Homo sapiens: one gene and its partners. The protein of the gene in region 2 purifies or fractionates together with the protein of the main gene of each other region. This does not show direct contact. Each region holds a gene or a part of one and is shown on either strand. Other genes may lie near its edges. The genes, in order: FAM98B, TIMM44, GRPEL2, COL3A1 and OAT.

Region 1 (3,517 bases), on a different chromosome or scaffold from region 2:
GTCAAAAGAATTGCCAAGTCCAAAAGCCAAGTGAATTTTAATGTGACATTGAAAATGTGTCCTCCTAAGAGGCTGTACAAGTTATTCTCCCACCACAGTCTAATGTCTGTAGTATACGAAAAGGCTTACTCCCCCAAACTTCTATTATGATTTTTTGAGTGAAAAATGGTATCCTGTCATAAGTGATATTGTGCATCTTGTCATGCTTAGAAGCAGTTAAAAAAAAATTTTCTGTAGAATGCGTGTTCATGTCTTATGTATTTTACACATTTTCCCAGTGGATTTTTATCTTTTTCCTGTTGATTTATAAAAGCTCTTTACATAGTACAGGATTTGGCCCTTTTAATTTTATACATGTTGCAAACACTTTCAAAAAGAACATGAAGAAGCTTATTATATCAATATGATTAAAACAGTCAAACTGAAGAAAGACTAGATGCTGGTAAGACTGTGAACTAGTATAACCTTTCTGGAGCAAAATATGGCAATATACATCTAGACCGGAGACTATTTTAAATGTTCCTAATCTTTGTCTAAGTAAGCAAAAATATAAACAAGGAAATCATTTTAAAATAGAAAAAAATCCAAATACCTCCAAATTTGAAATCTATTACACATAATGTTATGTCAATAGCAGAGCCAATTTAGTTTTTCAAAAAACAAGTGATAGGGAAATAAAGAGAAAAACGACACATCAAATGAAGAGGAGGAGGAGAAGGATCTGAAACAGGATCTTAATCTTATTTAAGAGTGAGTGCGAGTGTGAGAGTGTTGTGTGTATGTACACAGAAAACAGAGACACAATATTCTCTCTAGGGAGTGAGATTATAAATGCTTTTCTTCTTTATGTTTTATGTATTTTCTAAGATTTCTATGATAAGCATGTAATTTTTGCACATATAAAATTTACCATTTTAATCATTTTTAAGTATACAGTTCTATGACGTCACCATCCATCTTCAGAACTTTTTCGTCTTCCTCACTGAAACTCTGTACCCATTAAACACTAACTCCTCATCACCGCCCTCCTGAACATGTTATTTTTATAATCAGAAAAAAACTATATATTTCTGTTAAATTTCTTTTTTATTCCTACTTGTACCAGAAACCTGTATCACTACAATTGCTAAGCTTCTTAGCAGCTAAGGAGAAAGGGAACCATGATGGATTACATAATTCTCATTGACTGATATTAAGGATATGCAAGTTCCTCTAGCCGGTGTTTCCTAGGTTCCTTTCTGTCCCAATATACCTAAGAGTTACTGTGATCTCCCAATAACAGTGGTTCATTAAATCAGTGACTCACACCAAATGGGAGGAAGATGGAGAATGGTGTATTGGGATGGAGAGAGAGGGCATATAATTTTTATCCCCACTCAACACACACAAGGTAATTTCAATGCCAATACTTTTGTCACCACTAAACACACACACACACACACACACACACACACACACACAAATTTCATCTCTAATGAAACAAACTTTATTAAAACACTAGCGCCTAGGAGGAATATGTCACGTGTAATCTTTTTATAAATGGCATGATCTGAAATAGAAATCTTCAATAATAGAAGGTATTAGAAAAATTCTTTCAAATAGTCATTGTTTGTAGAACTTTAAAAACATTATAAAATTAGCCTAAAGTAAAAAAATGATGAAAGGAACCCAACACAAACATGGACCTACTATTTATGGTAATTGTTTGAATACAGTATGACCTATATTCCAAATCCCTCCCTGATGAAACTGGCCACATTTAAAGTGTCCTAAAGGCACAAATTTTATATTTTTTAAAAAAAAACAAAACAAGCAACCCTCATATATCCCTAGTATCCAGAGCAGTTCTTGGTGTTAGAGTAAGTGATCAACAAATTATCATCCAGTGCCTAGTTTCAGAGAGTTTTTAGATTAAATAGGACTTTGGAGATCATCAATGTTAGCCATATAGTCACGAACAATAACAGATAGAATGAGATAAAGGAAAAATTACTAAAGTACTATATAAATCACAAACACAGGACATTCTATATTGGCCAAATAAATCACAAGTGTTAGAAGGCATACTGGTAAAATTTATACTATATTATATAAACATTTCTGAGATAGCTTTGTATTTTAAGTAAAATATTAAAACCCTTTTAATATACAAAATGTCTAATGCTTCATTAATAAATCTTGACTTGAAAATAATAAAAACCATGTCAAACACATGCATTTAAATGTTCAAGATAACTTACATAGAAGTTTCAAACAGTCCTCCTTCTTTTTTAAACGATCTTTAATATCTCCTGATATGAGTACAGAATATGGACATGCCATTTCTTTTAAAAAGCCACTTATCTCAAGCTGGAAGCTCTCTAGATCATCTCTTCCTTTAAAAAAGAAAAATCATAAAACATTTACTGAGCATTTACCATATAATCCAATACTATAAAATCTACTCGTTTATTTCCATTTTACATTCAATTCTAAATTTTCACATTAAATCCTTAAATGTGTGATCACGAAGCTTACGTTAACAACTGAAATAGTAAAAGCATTATTATGGCTATAATTATTAATTCACTTCAGAGCAAATGATCCATTTCTACTATATTTCTATATATTCAGAAAATAAATGCAACCATCTAATTAACCCTCACTGCTTATCTTTATTTCATAATGTAATTATGTAGGCAGTCGTGTTATATGTTTAGAATTCAAATTAGTTTACTTTGCGTCAAGTGAACTGTTAGATCTGGCTGGGTGCGGTAGCCCACACCTGCAGTTTCAACTACTTGGGAGGGTGGGGTGAGAGGGTTGCTTGAGCCCAGGAGTTCAAGTCCAGTCTGTGCAACATAACAAGACCCCATCTCTTAAGAAAAAAAGGATACTTTTCAAAGAAAAAGCTACTTTTGTGAATGCACAATTTTTAATTTTTCTTTTTATTATACTATTAATATCCGAAATTCTACCAAAGACCCACAGGACTCCAGTTACTAAGATGGTAATGAACTAAAGAAGCTTTATGAGCTAGTACAGAAGTTTTTAATAGAAGTATTCCTATGTGAATCCATATCCTGAGCTACAAGCTTCAGAACACAAATTAGGAATTATATATATATAATATTTTAAGCCTTAATTCAACATGAGCACCATTCAAAAATTAAACTTTTAAATAATCAAATTCAGACCCTACTTTTTCTAAAAAACAATACTAAGGTTTAGACAGCAGATATCAGAGCCGTCAGGAAGAGAAAAAAATAGCAGATAAATAGTAATTGCTTATAGTTTTATAGCAAATTTAAATATCAATTCTGGATTAATATAAAATTTAATCCAAAAATGTTTACTACCACATACTGAAATTCTTTGGAATATGTGATTTTTCTTTGTACAGTGGGCACATTATTGATAAAACTATAAACCGTAAGTTATCAGTTTACTATTAAACAGAAAAGTAAATACAACATAATGGCAATACCAGCAGACGTGATACTTTCTTCCAAGTTGCATAATGATTTTATTTGAGAGC
Region 2 (3,517 bases):
CAGCAGGCAGCTGAGACCTCAAACCTAGGGGCTCTGAGGACCCCGCCCTCACCTCTCACCCTCAAATTCGAGGGAGCCGGGAACCTTGGGCAGAAGGCAAACTCAAGAAACGGACTCAGGAGGGAACCATTGGTGGGCTCCCGAAATGGACAGCAGTGAAAGCTGCCCAAAATGGGGGCAGCGAGGGCCACGGGCTGGTACCTACTCGTTTGGCTCAAACACTTTCTCCTCCTTGAACTTATCTCCCGCAAACTCCGTTCTCTTCCGGAGTCGCTGGGGCCTCCGGTAGGGCCCGGTCTGTCCCAGGACGCTGTCGTCAATTTCCTTCTTCACGGACTCCACCCCCTGCGAGGGAGGCACAGCGGGGCTGGGGTGGGTGTCTGGGTTCGGCCGCCCCAGGCTGCATGCCCTAGCCCAGGACTGGGCTCACCTGGGAGAGGGCTCTGAAGGCCGCTGTCCTGCCCAGCTTCTCCCCGCCTTTGGATACCGACTCGGCCGACTGCTTGGCCGTCTTGGCTGCTTCCTCCACGCCCTCCTTGATTTTCCGGCCGAGATCACTTTTACTGACTTCGTGAAGGCTCTACTGAGACAGACACAGAGAGGGGGCGTTGGCACCGGCCCTGGCGGCCGGGGGGCGGGGCAGGAGGAATGAATTCCTGCCGGAGAGAAGGGCGGATCTGGTTCCCCGAGGCCGGCAGAGGCCTTCTGTGCTCCTGTGGTACGCGGCACCCCCAGAGCCATGAGCACAACGGCACCCCCAGAGCCACGAGCACACCGCCACCCCCAGAGCCACGAGCACACCGGCACCCCCAGAGCCATGAGCACACCGGCACCCCCAGAGCCATGAGCACACCGCCACGGCTTCCGGGATGCTGGCCCTGGGCTCTGGGTGAGACGCTGGGTCTGCTGGCCCCTTTCCAAAATGGGCAGGAGTCCTCTGGAGACCCGGGAACTGCCTGGCAGCAAGGATTCCCAAGGAGGGGACCCCGGGGAAAGAACGGCGGTGAGGGCGCCCCATGCTGCGCAAAGCTGGACAGAACAGACAACCGAGGAGAGCCGCAGCACCCCAGGAATCCTGCCTCCCGCCTCTACCCTCGGGAGGGGGTGGAAGCGGCCCCTCTCCTCCTATTTTTAGGCAGGAAAAACATTTTCATGTTCTCCTCGAGTCCTGGCTAGCAGCACTTACTGCTGCCGACTCCCTGGGTCAACGGTCATGCAAGGTTGCCAGTCTGACCTCACCCTGCATGTGCCGGGAACTCCTGAAACCTTCCCGAGGGTGGCAGCACGCCCCATGCCACCCACTGCTGCCAAGCCACCCCCACCCAGGAGCCGACTCTTCCTCCAGCCTCCAGCGGCCAGGGGACTTTGATGGCCCCAGCGGCTCCAGGCGGGCGTGGAACTGTTACCTCCTTCACGGTGCCCGTCAGCTCCCCAAGCTTCTTCCGTAGCACCTCGCTCGTCCGCACGGTTTCTGACTCGATGGTTTTCTAGGTAAAGAGCGCTGTGTCCTTTTTTTTTTTTTTTTTTTTGAGACAATGTCTCCGTTGCCGAGGCTGGAGTACAGTGGCACGCTCTCGGCTCACTGCAACTTCCTCCTGCCAGATTCAAGCGATTTTCCTGCCCCAGCCTCCCGAGTAGCTGGGACTACAGGGCCCACCACCATGCCTGGCTAATTTTTGTATTTTCAGTAGAGACAGGGTTTTACCACGTTGGCCAGGCTGGTCTCAAACTTCTGACCTCAAGTGATCCACCCGCCTCGGCCTCCCAAAGTGCTGGGATTATAGGTGTGAGCCACTGTGCCTGGCCAACCGTTGTGTCTTTAAGTCTGTATGTTCTGACACGGCAGTGACATTTCTCTTACAGCCAAAGGTCCAAGAAGCATCTTCTCCGCAGCCCCTCCCTCCCCGCACCTGCCAGCATGTGCTGCCTCCAGGGCCCCCGGCTGCCCACATGGCTTGGATTGAGGGTCTCAGCAGCGGTGAGCTCCTTGCTCAGAAGGCCGGCAGACTCGGGTCCCCGCTTGGCAGCTACCTCCTGAGAACAGGAGGCCCAGCCTTCACCTTTCACCGGGTGGTAGGAGGTGGCCTTGCCTGTCATCACTGTGCCCCTCATCCAGCCTCCAGCCACCACAGCTTGGTCTTATGTCTCCCGCTCCATCCATCCCACTCCAAACTCAGCCTGCTATGTCTTCAGATGACCCCTGCATTAATGATAAAGAGGGGCTGGGCATGTGAGCTGTAGTCCCAGCTCTTTGGGAAGCTGAGATGGGAGGATCGCTTGAGCCCAGAGAGTTCGAGACCAGCACAGGCAACATGGCGAGACCCTGTCTCTAGAAATATAAAAAAATTAGCCAGGCGTGGTATCCCATGCCTTTAGTCACAGCTACTCAGGAGGCTGAGGTGGGAGAATCACCTGAACATGGGAAGGTCAAAACTGCAGTGAGCTGTGATCACACCACTGCACTCCAGCCAGGGTGACAGAGCAAGACCCTGTCTCAAAAAACCAAACTAGGCTGGGCACGGTGGCTCATGCCTGTAATCCCAGCACTCTGGGAGGCCAAGGCGGATGGATCACCTGAGGTCAGGAGTTCAACACCAGCCTGGCCAAAGTGATGAAACCCCGTCTCCACTAAAAATACAAAAATTAGCCTGGCGTGGTGGTGGGCGCCTATAATTCCAGCTATTTGGAAGGCTGAGGCAGGAGAATCGCTTGAACCCAGGGAGGCGGAGGTTGCAGTGAGCCGAGATCGCACCATTGCACTCCAGCCTGGCTGACAGAGCAAGACTCCATCTCAAAGGAGAAAAACAAAAAACGAACAAACAAAAAAACACAAATGAAACCAAACCAAACCAAAATGCAAGGGACCCGTGGCAGGTGCCTGCATCTCTGAGGCTCAGCTGCTCATTGGTAAAATGGGGACACTGTAACTGCCTCGCAGGGCCCTTACAAATAAAGGAATGCAGAGCCATTCCCAGAAGCCAGGGCTTGGCAGCTGCTCAAGAAGAGAAGTGACAATTAATAATGACAGGCTGGGAGCAGTGGCTCACACCTGTAATCCCAGCACTTTGGGAAGCTGAGACGGGCAGATCACTTGAGGCCAGGAGTTTGAGACCAGCCTGGCCAACATGGTGAAACCCCGTCTCTATAAAAAGATATATAGGGCTGGGCGCACTGGCTCACACCTGTAATCTCAGCACTTTGGAAGGCCAAGGCAGGTGGATCATTTGAGGTCAGGAGTTCAAGGCCAGCCTGGCCAACATGGTGAAACCCTGTCTTTACTAAAAATACAAAAATTAGCTGGGCAGTAGTGGTGTGTGTCTGTAATCCCAGCTACTCGGGAGGCTGAGGCAGGAGAATCGCTTGAGCCTAGGAGGCAGAGGTTGTGTTGAGCCAAAATCGTACCACTGCACTCCAGCCTGGGCAATGGAGTAAGACTCTGCTTCAAAAAACAACAACAACAACAACAACAAATCAGCTGGGTGTGGTGGCGGGCGCCTGTAATCCCAGCTATCCGGGA
Region 3 (4,129 bases), on a different chromosome or scaffold from region 2:
GCAGTTCTCTGGGTGGCAGTGCTGAATGGAAGCGGCCATCCCCTAAAACAGGAAGGAGGTGGCACATAATGAAGAAATGCCATCATAAGCCAAAATTACAACCAAGTTTAGAGACCAGAGATCTTCCCAGATGGAATCTCTGGAGAAAGTGTTTTCAGTTATAGTAACAAATGAACACTTACGAAGTCCTTACCATGTACCAGACACTGTTTTACTTGAGTCATCTTTTCCTCTCACAACAATATGTGAGATAAGTCCTATCATTATCCCTATTTTACAGATGAGAAAACTGATGCTGAGAGGCTTAAGGCATAATGGCCTGCTCAAGATCACATAGTTGGTATTCCGCTGGGTCAGGACACTAAGAACCAGGCAGCAGAAATAGCCAGAACTGGGTATACAAAAGTCAGCATAAGGAAACCAAATGCTAGTACCCAGAACCAGAGGAGCATTGTCAGAAGTGGGCATTCAAAAAGTCATATAGTTCTGGTTCAACCTTCTAACTTACAGATGAGGGAAATTAAGTCCAGTAAAGGGACCTTAAGGCTTAGAATTCTAAGCCTTCCTCACCACAACCTGTAAGGCTTTTAGGAGACCTGTGCTGAGAAAGAAATTCCCACCTATAAATAAGATCAAGTCAATGAAATACTTATACAATACTATATGTTACTGCCGGTGAATAGACACAGGTGAAAATAGATCTTTGCATTCAACTAGTTATGTAATCTAGAATTTTGTACAGCTAAACTGTTTTGACATTTAGTTCAGTTTACACAGAAATAAATTTAGACTAGGGGCTAGTTTACAGCAAATCTTGGGCTGTGGCAGTCCTGACCTGGCCCAGTTCAAGGAAGTTTCCACTGCAACTCCTGGATCTTCGTAATTTGACTGTAAGTAAAATTATCTTGAAAATCAATCTGTGAGTACATGAGTTCTTTAAAACAATTTTTATGGACTGGCATATACTGTAGAGTGGTCCTCACGGAGACAGCTGAGCAAAGGCTTAAAGAGGGTAAAGGAGTCAGCTTTAGAAAAGGGAAGAGCATCCTGGGCAGAGCAAATAGCTAGTTTAAAGGTGTAAGCAAGAGGACTTTTATCTCTCCTACTTTCCAAGCTGATCTTAAATTCAATTATTATAATCCGGTGTGTGATTTTATAGACAGTTCCACATTTTGGGGTCAGAAAATATGGTCACCGTAGATCTGGGGCTAATTACACACGGTGAAACATCTTCTCCCTAAAAAAACCACATTTATCCACTTGAAAAAGCAGGTCAAAATATTCTCAGGGGCCGGGCGCGGTGGCTCACGCCTGTAATCCCAGCACTTTGGGAGGCCGAGGCGTGCGGATCACGAGGTCAGGAGATCGAGACCACGGTGAAACCCCGTCTCTACTAAAAATACAAAAAATTAGCTGGGCGTAGTGGCGGGCGCCTGTAGTCCCAGCTACTCGGGAGGCTGAGGCAGGAGAATGGCGTGAACCCGGGAGGCGGAGCTTGCAGTGAGCCGAGATTGTGCCACTGCACTCCAGCCTGGGCGACAGAGTGAGACTCCGTCTCAAAAAAAAAAAAAAAAAAAAAAAAAAAAAAAAAAAAAAAATTCTCAGGGCCAGTTCAAAGGGAAAATGGCCAAAGCTTAGACCAAGAAATAGGGTTGGGGAGTTGTGGCCAATCTCAATTCCTACTGCTTCAGAACTGGAGTAGGGAGACAGCTTACCAGAAGGAACCATTTTTCTTCTGGTCATTTCCTTACATCACCAACAAGCTGCCAAAAAGACTTGAGAACGGTAAGCAAAACCAAGTCCCGAAACCCTGAATGCAACCTCTCACTTAGGTGCTAGGGTAGGATGTTGGGTCAGGTGTGTTAAGGTAAAAAGGGTGACATATGTAGTTAAGCACATTTACCAGATTCTCCCGTAGCTTACTTTACTATTCAGAGGTCCAACCCTACCTCGTACTCAACTATTTTTATTCTCTATCCCAGGAAGAAACAGTGTAGGGGCAACAGTCTCTGAGAAAATTAATTAACATCGCTCATTAAATAAGAGCGCCGATTCCAACGCCCTGACTGGTTTCCAGCCCGGGTTCCACCACTTCCCAAATATTTAAGTTTGGAAGTTACTCAACTTTTCTAAACCTCACTTTCCTTAACTACTAAATGGGTAATAATAAAAAGAACCACCCATAATTCTGCAGTCGGCCTCGTAAGCGACCAATAAAAGCTGCCGATGGAACTTGTCTTCCGAAGGCTGATGCAATGGCCGTTTGGAGAAACAAGTTCAGCGGCCTCCTTTTACTGACAGGTACAACAGTGCCCGGATAACGGAGAAAGGACTGGCCTTAGGTCACACGGAGTGAGGGGAGAGAACCCAAATTTACCCACAGGTACCACAGGCTGGGAGAAGAGGCCGGGAGAGTGGTACATCCCTCCCTTGGGGGCTTAAGAGACTTCTCACCTTCCAGGCCATGCATGACCTCGGATCTCCTTACCTTCCTCGGCCTAAGAAAGAGGCACGGCTGATGGCCTCAGTTTCCCCGTCTGTAAAATGGGGCCGTGAGTGCACGGTCGTAGAGGCCGAGAAGCTTGGTCCCCTGGCCTACGCTCAGATAGCTCTCGCCTTCCAGCCCACAACCACCCCGGCTGGCTCGCTAGCCCCTCAGAGTCCTCACGCTCCCGACTCCCCGCCTGCAATGCTTACTTGCTCTCCCACGCGGCACTCCAGGCCAGTAGGCGCTGCACCCGCAGCCGGCCCGCCCACAGCGACCGTACGGCCATGTTTCCAATTTGGGCTGAGAGGCAGCGCACGCGCACTTGCTGCGAGTGAAGAGATGCTCCCGCTTAAAAACCAGCCTTTGCGGGCGTTTCCCTCTCAGGACTTCCGGACAGGAACGCTATGCTTCCGGTTGCCCGATGGGCCGCGCCGTTCCCCATCCGGTCGTCCGGAGCTAAGGCAACACTTCCGGCTCTCAGTGTGTTCCGCGGGTAGGCGAGGTCCTAGTAGTAACTACAGTCTCCGTGCTGGGCGCAGGGTCGGCAGCAAAGAAAGCAGATCATAGCTGTGCCCGCATGGAGCTTACTTGATATTATGAGCGATAAACAGATACAAGCGGGATGTAAAGTCAGAATATGAGCGGTGTTTGAAGGTGAGGGGCAGGTGTCGCGGAAGCCTAGAATAGAAATCTAGCCTTGTGGAAAGTTTTCCCAGAGGAAGGGGGTATTTGAGCTGAGCTGAAGAAAGGGTTCAGGCAGAGGGAAACATCTGCAGAAGCCTAATAAAGAGAGAAGAGTATTGCATGTAAGGGACTGAAATATACTGAGGCGGGAGGGCAACAGGACTGGTGGTTAGGAAGGGCTAGATCACGTGAGCGGTTTAAAACATCGCAGCCTGAACCATTGCCCATCACTCCTCCCAGTCTTTTTCTCTAATGCCCTTCTTATCGACTGAATTGTTTTTTTAAATAGTGTGTATTTTCTCATTTCCTCTCACTAAAATATAAGCTCTTTTAAGGCAGAGATATTGTCTATTCATTCCCATTGAGCAGTGCCCTAATGTAGGTGTTCAAAATTATTTTTTTTGAGATGGAGTCTCACTCTGTCACCCAGGCTGGAGTGCAGTGGCACGATCTCGGCTCACTGCAACCTCTGCCTCCCAGGTTCAAGTGATTCTCCTGCCTCAGCCTCCTCAGTAGCTGGGATTACAGGCGCCCACTACACCCGGCTAATTTTTGTATTTTTAGTAGAGACAGGGTTTCACCATGTTGGTTAGGCTGGGCTTGAACTCCTGACCTCAGGTGATCTGCCTTCCTCAGCCTTCCAAAGTGCTGGGATTACAGGCATGAGCCACCGCCCCCGGCTTCAAAAAACTTTTTTGCTGAATGCAATTTAGTCTGATTCTGATTGCAATGGAATGTGAAAATAAATAAAACCTAAAAGCTGTTGGAACCTCCCAAATACTTGAAGCTTTGAGAGAGATGTGGCTGTGGTCTGAGTCCATGTAGCATGTTTTGTAGTTCTGCTTCTTAGAATTATAGCTTAATTCTCTTCCTCATTGTTCTTGTTCTGTAATGACTAGGAAAGAGCAGAGACCAGATTTCTTCCCTCTCAATTACTGATGTTTGTAATAGACAGCC
Region 4 (3,517 bases), on a different chromosome or scaffold from region 2:
GCTTAAGAAATACCTAATTACAAACATGTACTACTTGTGCAATTCATGTATTTTTTCCAAAGTTATTTAGGAAAGAAATCCTGATTTAAAATGGTCTCCTGTGAATGTTAGATTTAAGAAATTTAACATTCCCTTGCATGCTATATGGTTCCTTATATGGTTTTTGAAGATAATATCTCCAAATTGAGGCTCAGGGAACTGAGGGCAAAACTGCCAAAAAGGGAAGCATAAGTAGCTACTGTCTGTATGGGGTTAAAAAGTATGTTGAGAATGTCTTTAACACTTACAGGGCTACCACGAGGTCCAGCTATACCTGGAAGTCCGGGGGCACCACCTTCACCCTGGAAAAAGAGAAGCCATGTCACTGTCTTGCATCCAAAAGAGAGAGACATTTTCTTTTTATATCCAGGTAGTATTAAGGGTTACCTTATCTCCAGGCTGGCCAGCTGGGCCAGGAGGACCAATAGGACCAGTAGGACCCTAGAGGAAATAAAAATATTTTTTAATTTTGAAGATACAAATATCGTTTTTTGCATTAATCAAACAGAAAGTATATAGACATAGATACCTAATAAACTAGATAACATACTTTTTAAAAATTTTTATGGCTTGAATGCTATGCTTTTCTCTCAATGTGTAAATACTGCAGAGCTCAGTAAACACAAGCCTCTTTGGGGATAACTCTGGGAGAAAATAGGATTCAGCAATAGTTTATTGATTCATTTATCTTTATCTCCATTGTAGAAGATAAATAGGATGTCATGTAAGATCTTACAGTAATGTCTTTTTAAATTAAAGTACATTTCTTTATTCAATTGCTTGATAATTTAAATGTTTTCTCAAAGTCTCATTGTACATATTAAATTTTTCAACTTGAAATTTTCAAATAGTAGTTTTACTTATATTACAAAACTGAAGTATTGAGCACTCTTTTTACCTGAATGACGGCTTATCTACTTAGTCTGTCAAAAGCGAAGCATTTATGAATTTCTTTAAGGCAACTATTATATAAATTTATTAAAAGACTTAATTATAATCATATTTAGGAGATGTTTTTTGTTTTGTTTTTGACTTTTAGTTTGAATTATAGATTCATAGGATGCTGCAAAGGAATATACAGGGAAATTCTGTGCACTTTTCTCCCAGCGTCCCCTAATGTTAACATCTTACACAACTATAATATAATATCAAAACTAGGAAATTGACATTGATACCATCCATAGAGCATGTTCAGATTTCACCAGTGATACACACACTCATTTATGTGTGTGTATATGTAGCTCTATAGAATTTTATCCCATGTGTAGATGTGCCTGACTACCACCTCAATCAAGATACTCAAATGTGCAATCACCATAAGACTCCCTTGTGTCATGTCTCCATAGCCACATCCATCTCTCTCTTTCTCATTCTTAACTGCTAGCAACCACTAATCTGTTCTACATCTCTACAAGGAAGTTATTTTGCAAATATTGTAGGAATGGAATCATGCAGTATGTATCCCTTGGTGACTGAATTTTCTTCACTGAGTATGTTGTCCTTGAGGTTTGTATAATTTGCTGTGTGTACAGCATCAATTGTTCATTCCTTTTTGTTGCTAAATACTATACAATTTTTAAATATTAAGTCTATTAATGAGGAGTACTTACTATATTGAATTTTGATGACTTTTAGTTTCTTAATGAGCAGCATTGATTATCCTAAATTTCAGTGATTATCTCAGATTTTAGTGACTCACAAATGCTAGTTTGTGACCTTTATCGTACTCTTGAGGCTTTTTCATTCTTTAGTCACTGTAGATCTATCAAGTAGCCATAGATATAGACCACAAATTTCATTATAAATCAAGTCATTCGGGTCTTTAGGTGGTAAAATATCTAATTTCTCTTGAGTAGTTTTTGGAAAAAATTAAAGTTGAAGTGCAGGACTGTCCCATATGACATATAGATAAGGCCTGCTTCTCCTCACTGGGAATACTCACCCTTGGGCCATCTTTCCCTGGGACACCATCAGCACCTGGACCGCCTGGTTCACCCTGTCAAATAAAAGCCAATGTCATCAGATTCAAAGTATCTTCAGTGAAAATCAGCCAAGAAGAGGAGTAACTCTCAGGATTTGTAGGGATATATATTGGGTGTTCTAATTCATTGTTGCTTTAGGAATCCATCTTAAATTTCACTTACTATAAAATGATAACATTAATTTTGAAAATACAGTCGATTACTTTCCAGGAGTGTTGCTTTTTTTAAAACCTACAATGACTGATTTATTGAACAATTAAGAGAAAACAAGTCAACACCTTGTCACCCTTTGGACCAGGACTTCCAAGACCTCCTCTTTCTCCAGGCATTCCTTGCAGACCAGGAGTACCAGCAGCACCAGGTGGCCCAGGAGGACCAGCAGCACCCTGAAAATAAGTGAGAAATAATAAATGATCAGAAGGAAATCAAATGCATTTTTTAAACCTAGGTGAATGGAATGCTGTGGAGTTACCTTTCCTCCTTCGGGACCAGGGGGACCAGCTCCACCTCTAAGTCCTGGGGCCCCTGCCAATCCAGGAGGTCCACGTTCACCAGGGGCACCAGCATCACCCTGTGACAAAAATATGTAAATAACCATATTAGACAACCCAAAGCTAAAAACAAAGCACCTTAACTTGCATCATTTTGAATCAGGCCACTAGGTTATTATATTGTGAACAATCTAGAAATTTGTATACTTAAAAATAGTTGAACAGCTGGGTGGGAACTAGAAGCTTAAAAGAGTGTCTAAAATAAAACTTGGATACTTAGTCTGGTTAAGTGTGAGCTGTCATTGAAATACTTATTATTTTATTCACAAGAGCAACATTTTAAAGTTCTTTTTACCAAAACAGTTTTCCTACATAGAATCAACATATTGGCAATATTTTTCCGTTTGAAATTTTAAGCCCGTATTTGATTCTGTAGTGATTATGAATGTCAGAGAATTGGACCTTCCAGATTAAAGCAAATTTAATGTATTGAAAGTGTCTTGAGTTTCTCTAAGTGTACTTACCAAACATTTGCAATGATGCTCTTTTAAAGAAAGAGTATTTTGGCTTGATATACTAAAAATATACTACTAATCAATTGCTCTATAACCTGCTGAAGAAGGTAGAGAATAAATTGAAATACTACCTTGCCTCCTGGAGCTCCAGGTGCACCGGCATCACCCTTTGGACCCTGGGAGATTGGCATTATATGATTAGGCCCATATCAGAGTGCATTTTATGTAAATATAAGCAAATATGTAAATATAAGCAAATATGTAAATATAAGCAAAATACACATTTGTCATGTTGGCATACTGTATAATTTTTCAAATCTTGAAACTATGAACTCTCTATTTTATGGTAAAATTCAAACTCTATATAATAGTTATCTTTTAAATAATTTGTCTTTGTTTTGATAATATTTCAAAACTAAATGTTAAATCTCAAATATCATGGCATAAGAAAATTAAGAAGTTAATAGTTGACAAACAAACAGTGTGTATT
Region 5 (3,517 bases), on a different chromosome or scaffold from region 2:
TTAAAAATAAATCATGGCACTGTTGATTCTGATATTTCAGAAACTGGCTAGTTTTAAGGGCAAAAGGGAACTGAGTGGCCATTTTGTGCTGGATTTGGCACAGTAACATTAACCCATTTCATCCTCAGTGACACTTCAACCTCCTTTTACAAATGGGGAGACTGAAGCTCAGAAAGATTGACAGAATCACCCAGAGTTACTCTTCAGAACCACAGACAGAATTTAAAATCCCGGTCTCCAAACTCGGGATTTTCCGCTTGATTCTCCCGGTTTTGAAACCTTTTTGGAAGAGGCTGTTATTGATGTTGGCTATTTTTAAGTCCATCTTAATTCTGCTCTAAGATTTCTCATACAGTGCCAAGCACAGTAACTTGAACACAGAAGGTTCTTTAATAGAAATGCGTTTACAGGATTTTGATACATCATGGCTCATCCAGTTTCTGACCTTTCCCAGTTGAATTAAATATCCAGAATTCATCTTAAAAACCTTAAGAATAGCTGACTCAGGGGTGTGTGCCTGTAGTCCCACCTCTTCCTGAGGCTGAGGCAGAAGGATCCCTTGAGCCCAGGTGTTCGAGGCCAACCTGGGCAACATAGCTGAGACTCCATCTGTAAGTGAAAAGAAACAAAAACCTTAAGAATGAGTATTAGTAATGTTTTGAATGATATTATTTTGTCCCCAGTTATTCTTTAATAAAACTGCCTAAACTTAACAGGTAAATGAATTTTTCATCCCATTTCTGTTGGAAATTAGCTGTGCAGATAACTTTTATATAAAATAAGAATGTTGAATTTAGATAATCTCTGATATTCCTTTTTTTTTTTTTTTTTTTTTTTTTTTTTTTTTTTTTAGCGCTTTGTAGCCCAGGCTGGAGTGCTGGTGGCACAGATCGTGGCTCACTGCAGCCCAGAACTCAGGGCTCAAGAGATCTTTCCACCTTAGTCTTAGTCTCCTAAGTACCAGATACTACAGGTACGCATCGCCACACCTGGCTAATATTCATATTTTTTATAGAGATGGGGTCTCCCTATGTTGCCCAGGTTGATCTTTAACTCCTGGGCTCAAGTGATCTGCCTTGGCCTCCCAAAGCGCTGGGATTATAGGCGTGAGCCACCTTGCCTGGCCCTAGAAAGTTGTTACGGTTTAGAGCACCACTAAGTATTGCCTGAGTGTTTTACTGCTAATTTGATAGGCAAAAATTAATGTTCTAATTTTTTAGTTGATCAAACAATTTATTCATACTGAGTAAAGCATAAAGAGTCCAAGAAAGAAATCATACATGAGTGTTTTAGACTTAGCAGTAGTATTTTGGGGAAGTTACATATAGTACAGTTAGACATTTTTGCTAGCAGCTACCTCCAGTTGGATGATTCTTACATCACTTTTGTTTTGATTGTTGGTACCCACCCCTTTGAGATAAAGTCTGATGAAAGTTATGGACCTTCTTCTTGGAAAAATATACGTCTGCATGTAATTCTGCATTTTATTTCAGGAGATTTTGGACTCTCTGCAGACTGTCCCTGGATCTTGGGTTAAAAATCTGTATTCTAGACTGAACCGTGGGAAGAAAAAATAGTCAGTGAGTCTTTGGCAAACCGGAGTACTGGATTTTGTTTAGCAATTGCAAATTCCTGAACATACTGGATTTACTGGGTAGTGCCAAGTTTAAAGGGAAGTAAGCCAAACTCCAAGTATTATGTTTTGCTAATTTGGCAGCTCGAATCAAGAGTGGCTGTGAGATTATACATGGTTTGACTTGTCATTGGTAGACTTCTGTTGAAACATGAATTAACTAGTCTTTTAGAAAGTAAGTATAGATGGAATAAGTATGCCTAGTTTTTGGCAACTTTCTCCTAATCATGAATTTATCTTTAAGCTTTTTTTTTTTTTTTCCTTCCAGAGGTGATTCCTATGCACATGCTCTAATTTCCTTTTAATTATTAGTTTCTTTCATAGCTTAGTTTTTACTTCATGGCTTATCAGGATGCTTAATGGTAAATTGGGTACAAAGAGGTGTGTGAAGCCTTGTGGAGGGGCTAGTTTTAGGGCTGGGGGTGACTGGGGAGAGTAGCTATGGCTCTGACTTATGTGATGGGGCGGCAGGGTAAACACCAGCCTGCTCAGTGATGTTTAGACTTTAACACTCATACAAGTAACGGATTGTAGTTTGTAGTTTGACTCTCTCTAGTTTCTCAGTTACCTTTTGCTAACAATAGCTTTTTCGTTTGTTTGTTTGTTTTTTGAGACGGAGTTTCACTCTTGTTGCTCAGGCTGGAGTGCAATGCGCAGTCTTGGCTCACTGCAGCCTCGTCCTCCCAAGTTCAAGCGATTCTCCTGCCTTAGCCTCCTGAGTCGCTGGGATTACAGGCATGCACCACCACGCCTGGCTAATTTTGTATTTTCAGTAGAGACGGGGTTTCTCCATGTTGGTCAGGCTGGTCTCGAACTCCCGATTCAGGTGATCGCCTGCCTCTGCCACCCAAAGTGCTGGGATTATAGGCATGAGTCACCGCACCTGGTCAACAATATCTTTTATGCTACAATTTTTCAGGATAAGTTTTGTAGAAACAACCATCCTAGCAGAATAGATTGTTTTGTTTGGGAATCTCATATATGTGTGTGTGTGTGTGTGTGTGTGTGTGTGTGTGTGTGTGTGTATGTATTTATGTATGTATGTATATGTTGGTCTAATTCAACTTGCTGTGAACACTTTAAAGCTATTATAAGTTAACATTTTTTTCCTAGTCTTTTTGCCTTTCACCTTTGTTTATGATAAATTTGACCTACAGAAGTTTTAGATATTTGTGGCTAAATAAAAGATTTTAGGCTGGGCACAGTGGCTCACACCTTTAATTCGAAAACTTTGGGAGGCCGTGGTGGGCGGACTGCTTGAGCCCAGAGGGATGGACAGTTCCTCTGTCTCCTGCCCCATGCCTAGTCTCTGGCAGTCTTCTCTGATTTGGTCTCCCTGCCTCTGGTCTCTGCCCTACAGTTGTAGCTGTCTCATAGCATTGTGCCTGATGGTATCGGACTGTGGTAGGTGCTTAACAAATACTTAGTGTTTAGCAGGTACTCAGTCAACACACAGTGCATTAGCTCTGGAAAGAGTCTTACTCTTATTGATTGGTTGGTTGATTGATTGCCTGATTGACAGGGTATCACTCTGTTGCCCAGGCTGGCCTCAAACTCTTGGGCTCAAGTGATCCTCCCGCCTCAGCCTCCTGAGCAGCTGGGGGCTACAGGCACAAACCACCACACCTGACTCAAGATTCTCACTCTTTTTTTTTCTTTTATAGAGACTATGTTGCCTAGGCTGGTCTTTAACTCCTCGGCTCAAGCGATCCTCCCATCTTGGCCTCCCAAGGTGCTGGAATTACAGATGTGAGCTATCACGCCTGGCCATTTTTTTTTTCTTGAGACTGGGCCTTTCTTTGTCTCCCAGGTTGGAGTACAGTGGCACAATCTCAGCTCACTGCAGCCTCAACTTCCGGGCTCAAGCAATCCTCCCACCTCAGT

Evidence for each region.
Region 1: the proteins of TIMM44 (region 2) and FAM98B fractionate together in Homo sapiens (co-fractionation; one large-scale study listed by BioGRID). This does not show direct contact.
Region 3: the proteins of TIMM44 (region 2) and GRPEL2 fractionate together in Homo sapiens (co-fractionation; one large-scale study listed by BioGRID). This does not show direct contact.
Region 4: the proteins of TIMM44 (region 2) and COL3A1 purify together in Homo sapiens (affinity purification with mass spectrometry; one large-scale study listed by BioGRID and IntAct). This does not show direct contact.
Region 5: the proteins of TIMM44 (region 2) and OAT fractionate together in Homo sapiens (co-fractionation; one large-scale study listed by BioGRID). This does not show direct contact.

Annotation. Positions count from the first base shown.
Region 1 is NC_000015.10:38,464,127-38,467,643, reverse strand, and holds part of FAM98B (protein FAM98B), read right to left. Parts: coding exon 3,467-3,517; intron 2,376-3,466; coding exon 2,241-2,375; intron 1-2,240. UniProt on the Homo sapiens protein: Positively stimulates PRMT1-induced protein arginine dimethylated arginine methylation.
Region 2 is NC_000019.10:7,933,659-7,937,175, forward strand, and holds part of TIMM44 (mitochondrial import inner membrane translocase subunit TIM44), read right to left. Parts: intron 1,488-3,517; coding exon 1,407-1,487; intron 581-1,406; coding exon 431-580; intron 346-430; coding exon 206-345; intron 1-205. UniProt on the Homo sapiens protein: Essential component of the PAM complex, a complex required for the translocation of transit peptide-containing proteins from the inner membrane into the mitochondrial matrix in an ATP-dependent manner.
Region 3 is NC_000005.10:149,344,185-149,348,313, reverse strand, and holds the start of GRPEL2 (grpE protein homolog 2, mitochondrial precursor), read right to left. Parts: upstream 2,816-4,129; 5' UTR 2,775-2,815; coding exon 2,698-2,774; intron 199-2,697; exon of another isoform or gene 43-198; coding exon 1-42. UniProt on the Homo sapiens protein: Essential component of the PAM complex, a complex required for the translocation of transit peptide-containing proteins from the inner membrane into the mitochondrial matrix in an ATP-dependent manner.
Region 4 is NC_000002.12:188,998,360-189,001,876, reverse strand, and holds part of COL3A1 (collagen alpha-1(III) chain preproprotein), read right to left. Parts: intron 3,204-3,517; coding exon 3,159-3,203; intron 2,593-3,158; coding exon 2,494-2,592; intron 2,408-2,493; coding exon 2,300-2,407; intron 2,036-2,299; coding exon 1,982-2,035; intron 481-1,981; coding exon 427-480; intron 342-426; coding exon 288-341; intron 1-287. UniProt on the Homo sapiens protein: Collagen type III occurs in most soft connective tissues along with type I collagen. Involved in regulation of cortical development.
Region 5 is NC_000010.11:124,412,409-124,415,925, reverse strand, and holds part of OAT (ornithine aminotransferase, mitochondrial isoform 1 precursor), read left to right. Parts: intron 1-853; exon of another isoform or gene 854-973; intron 974-1,493; exon of another isoform or gene 1,494-1,808; intron 1,809-3,517. UniProt on the Homo sapiens protein: Catalyzes the reversible interconversion of L-ornithine and 2-oxoglutarate to L-glutamate semialdehyde and L-glutamate.